2 separate regions of the Homo sapiens genome follow, and region 1 is linked to region 2. The links come from fine-mapping of genetic effects on gene expression. Tissue or cell type: whole blood. Region 2 holds a variant in brackets; the other region holds the start of a gene. All regions are shown on one strand. Distances are between the middles of the regions.

Region 1 (2,683 bases), 250 kb before region 2:
CAGTTTGATACAACAGCAAACGGGATAAGTCGAGTCATCTTGCAAAAGGATAAGGTTGAGGCCCAGGATCTTGGGAAGCTGGGCACCTGGACTCCTGGGATCAGAGGGAAGAGGAGGCTGGGGCCTGGTGGAGTAGTTATTGTAGAAAAACCACCACCCTCCCTCACCCTCTGGGCTGGCATCCTGGCATCAGCTCTCAGTGCTTCTTAGAAACTCCCTTCCCTTCTCTGCTCAATCTGGCCCAGCCCTACCCCTGGGGACCCACTGTTGACCATGAGTGTGCCAGGGGCCTGGATTCCCAAGCGCTCACCTCTGGCCCCAGCCTGTCCCCAGGGAGGGGTGACGGGGTCCAGGCTGGTGCCTAAGGCTGGGTCTGATCTGCAGACAAGTGGAGGCAGAGAGTTCCTCTCTCTTCCCCAATCTCTCTCATCTCTCTGTCCCTCTGTCCCCAGCACCCCCACCCCCACCCCCCAGCCCCCGGCCTCCTCTCCTTCTATCCTCATGCAGGTGTGTAAATGTAGCTGAGGCCCCAGGAAGGGGGCCTGTCACTTGGAAACACTTTGTTCCACTGTCACTGCCCGGGGCTGGTGCTCCAGCCCTTTCCTGAGGGAGGCGGGTTCTTTATACTGGACTCTGGAAACTCCTAAATACATGTGGATCGCTGGTGTGGGGACACATGGTCCTCGCTTCTCTAAGGGGTCCCTGGACCTCTCAAAACTTGAGGACCTTTGAGGGAGAGAGCCCTGGGGTTTTGATCCTCTGTGCCCTGGGGGAAGCTATTCTAGCCACTGGAGGCCTGGACTCCTGGGTCTGAGGAAAGAGGGGCTGGGGGCCCAGATTCCAGGGTCTGAGGGAGGAGGCAGGTGGGACCCAGATTCCAGGGTGCTGAGTGGGAAGGGGGCTGACTTCTCTGGTTGTCTCTGATCCACCGCCTGGGTATCCCCAGCTCTCCTGCCTGGCTGTCCCCAGATCTCTCTCACTGGAAGGCGTACCTTCCAACACTCCCATATCCCTCCTCCTTGGGGTCCCCACATTTTGCTTCCTGGGGTCAGGGTAAAGCCCTTTCTCCTCGCTTTCCCGGGGTCCCCAGGGGCCTCTCCCCAGTCCCACCTTGCCCTCAGCCCGAGCCATACCTGGGTGCGCCGCCAGCAGGACTGCGAGCAACAGCAGCCGCGGGGCCCCGCGCGCCTGGGCCGGTGCGTCCGGGGGCTCCATGTTCACGGCGGCGGCGGAGACTGAGCCCGGGCTGCAGCTCGGCCGCTGCGGGGCTGGGAGCCAGAGGCCCCGCCCCCGGCAGCCCCGCCCCGCCCCGCCCTCCAGGCCCCCCTCGTCCCCCGATGCCCGGGCGCGGGGCCAGGACCTCCCACTGCCCGGAGCGGACCTCCCAGTGCACGGGGCCAGGCTCGGGGCTCGTCCGCCCCCAAGCCTAGAGCTGTCCGGGCTTACTGACCAGCGCCTGCAGCGGGGGGCCTGATCGACCAGCGTAGCCAGTGACCCGAGCTGGGATCTCACCAGGCAATCGCGGACCTTCTCCTCGTTATTCTGACCAGGGGCCTTGGGGACTCGTCCCCACTGTGACCAGCAGCCTGGGCTGGCATCGTCGATTTTAACCAGAGGACCCCACTGCAACCTGTGGCCTGCGATGGCCTCTCCCAGTGTAACTAATGGCCCCAAGCGTGCCGTCCGAGTGGCCTGCACTGGCCTCTCCCAGTCCAACCAGTGACCCCCGCAGCCTGACCAGTGGCCCCCAGCAGCTGCTCCCAGTATGCCCGGAGATGTTTTCCCCTGTGGTCAGTGCTCTGGGCTGCTTTCCTCGTCTGACCAGTAGCCTGGAATCAACCGGTTTAATCTCTTATTTTCAATGGTCTTCAAATCCAGGTCCTCCTAGGCCGCTTCGATGATGGGGCTGGGGGTGGGGTACGGGGTGCCCTCTCTGCTTGCTCACCCATGGAAGGCCCTCCCACTCTTCCCCCTATCCAGGGAATCCCAGGAATGCCACCCTCCCTTCCTCCTTCCCGCTCTCTCCTTCATTCCCTCCCAACCTTGTGGGGAAGGGAGGAGTCAGACTGGCCAGAGCAGGTGAGGAGGGCAGGGGAAGAGGCCAGGGCACCTGCGGGAAGGGGGAGGAGTCCAGCCACTGCTAGGAAGCGTGGGTCACAGGTCCGACTGCCCAAGGCCCCTACAGGCCAGGTCAGACTGGGACAAAATCCCCCACTAGATGTCACTAGTTGCCCAGGACAGTGGTCAGAACGTGGGAGGGTGGGGGGTCGCTGGCCACACTGGGAGAGGTTACCCAAGCTTCTGATCAGCCTGGGGGTTGAGGTAGCCCTGGAGCTGGGCTTTGCCTGCTCAGACATACAGAGAAGGCTTGGATTACAGGTCAGCCTGGGAGTTATTAGACTGGTCAAGGTTACTTTATCCATTGGTCATACAGGAGACCAACGTTTTTTTTGTTTGTTTGTTTTGTTTTTGACAGGGTCTCGCTCTGTTGCCCAGCCGGGAATGCAGTGGGCGCAATCATAGCTCATTCAAACCTCAACCGCCTGGGCTCAAGCAATCCTTCCACTTCAGCCTCCCAAGTAGCTGGGACTATAGGCTTGTGTTACCATGTCCAGCTAATTTTTGTATTTTTTTGGTAATAGAAACAGGGTATTACTATGTTGCCCAGGCTGGTCTCCAACTC
Region 2 (2,683 bases):
GTTAAAAAAAAAAAAAAACAAAAAAAACCTTACCTCCCTTTAATACCATTATCTTCTCCCATTTATAATCATTTATAATATTATTGTCTTAATATTTTCTTTACATACATTGAGAATCACATCAGACAGTGTTACAATTTTTACTTTAACTATTAAATGTAATTTAGAAAATTCAGTTAGAGGTGTGAAGATCCTCTGGAAAAAAAGGGAAAGAAAACTCAAGAAGAAAAAGAAAACCCCTTCCTCTCCCCTCTCCCCTTTTTCTGTCCTCTCCTCCCTCCCTCTTTCTCCTTTTCTTTTCTTCCTTCTCTATCTTTCTTTTCTCCTGATGTTCCAGATTCCCTTCTTTTACCATTCTTTTCTGTTTTAATAACTCCCTTTCTCTATTCTTTTAGGGTAGGTCTGCTGGCAACAAATTCTCTTAGTTTTCCTTCATCTGAGAATGTGTTGGTTTTTCCTGAATTCTTTTTTATTTTATTTTTAAAAATTTGTTTATTTTAATTTTTATGGGTACATAGTAGGTGTATATATTTATGGGGTACATGAGATGTTTCGATACAGGCATGCAATGTGGAATAATCACATCATAGAGAACGGGGTGCTCATTCCCTTAAGCATTTATCATTTGTATTACAAACAATCCAGTTACTCTTGGATCCAATTTACAATTAGATCCAATTTCCAATCCAAATGCAATTACAATTCAATAACTCTTTTAGTTATTTTATTTTATTTTATTTATTTTTTGAGATGGAGTCTTGCTCTGTTACCCAGGCTGGAGTGCAGTGGCGCAATCTTGGCTCACTGCACTTCCGCCTCCTGGGTTCAGGCAATTCTCCTGCCTCAGCCTCCAAGCCTGCCTAATTTTTGTGTTTTTAGTAGAGATGGGGTTTTGCCATGTTGGCCAGGCTGGTCTCGAACTCCTGACCGCAAGTGATCTGTCCGCCTCAGCCTCTCAAAGTGCTGGGATTATAGGAGTGAGTCACCCCACCCGGCCTCTTTTAATTATTTTAAAATGTACATCTCTCTCATTCTTGAATGGTTATATACATAATATATACATATAATTGTATATACATTTATATACATATATACATATTTTATATGTATACCTATAAATGTATATACATTTATATACATATATACATATTTTATATGTATACCTATAAATGTATATACATTTATATACATATATACATATTTTATATGTATACCTATAAATGTATATACATTTATATACATATATACATATTTTATATGTATACATATAAATGTACATCTTTTTCATTCGCTGGTTATAGAATCCTGGGTTGACAGTTCTTTAGAACTTATAAAATGTTATGCTTCTTTCTTCTGGCTTTCATAGTTTCTGATGAGAAATCTACTTTCATTGAAATTGTTTTCTTCCTATGGGTAAGGTATCATTTGTCTTTCACTGCTTTCAAGATTTTAAATTCATCTTTAGCTTTCAACAGTTTGATTATGATATGCCCTGGCATAGATTCATTTGGGTTTATTCTGTTTGGGTGTATTAGTTTTTTTTTT[TA/A]TTATTTATTGCTGCCTAACAAAATTATCACAAATTTGGAGGCTTAAAATAACATTTATTTTACTATTATTTCTTAATATATCAACTATTTACAATCATAAAGGTATATCACAAGATCAGTTATTACATCAAACATGTATTTTCCATCTACACTCTGTCCTGTAGATGAGAGCCCAAATGAGATTTTCACTGAAACATTTATTTTTTGTTTTTTTTTGTTATTTTTTCTTGTTGGTCTTTAATGAAGGCTAGGCATAAACTGAATTGACTTTCATGCAGTTGCTTTTCATTTTTCATTTTTCATTTTTTTTTTTGAGACAGAGTCTCAATCTACTGCCCAGGCTGGAGTGCAGTGGCATGATCTCGGCTCACTGCAGCCTTTGCCTCCTGGGTTCAAGCGACTCTTCTGCCTCAGCCTCCCCTGTAGCTGGGATTACAGGCATGAGCCACTGTGCCTGGCTAATTTTTGTATTTTTTAGTAGAGATGGGATTTCGCCATGTTGGCCAGCTTGGTCTCGAACTCCTGACCTCAGGTGATCCGCCCACCTCTGCCTCTCAATGTGCTGGGATTACAGGCATGAGCCATCGCGCCTTGCCATGATTTTTATTTTTCATTAGTGCTCATGGTATATGCTGCCCAGTGAGTTGTACCAACTACATTATTGTAACATCTGAATCAACTGTGGGCTACATTGTTTGATCAAGATTGATAGATTGCTTTATTTATTTATTCTTCTTTTACAACTATAGCCTACAGATAAACAACCATTATTACAGAGATTAAACTTGATTATGCTACATATCATATTACATGAATCACTCTGTGTCTACAAAGGCAAATTGACTGGATAAAATTCATTAAGGTGTAATGCCAAATAATTGCTTTATCATGATACAATACAATACTTATGTCTCACTTCCTTTTTTTTTTTTGAGATAGAGTCTTGCTCTGTCGCTCAGGCTGGAGTGCAGTGGCAGGATCTCTGCTCACTACAACCTCCGCCTCCCGGGTTCAAGCAATTTTCTTGCCTCAGCCTACTGAGTAGCTGGGATTACAGGCACACACCACCATGCCTGACTGATTTTTTTATTTTTAGTAGAGACGGGTTTCACTATATTGGCCAGGCTGGTCTCGAA

Evidence for each region. PIP is the estimated chance that this variant, and not a neighbour inherited with it, causes the effect.
Region 1: BCAM starts here. The variant in region 2 is fine-mapped to the expression of BCAM in whole blood (INTERVAL, PIP 0.90).

The regions. Positions count from the first base shown.
Region 1 is chr19:44,807,657-44,810,339 of GRCh38, reverse strand. It overlaps BCAM (basal cell adhesion molecule (Lutheran blood group)), which reads right to left and starts at 1,237. Exons shown (of 15, transcript NM_005581.5): 1 at 1,134-1,237. The coding sequence starts at 1,215.
Region 2 is chr19:44,557,750-44,560,432 of GRCh38, reverse strand. No RefSeq gene overlaps it. Among named protein-coding and RNA genes, the nearest start is that of CEACAM20, 29 kb to the right of the region's middle. The variant TA/A (reference allele first, on the strand shown) is at 1,546.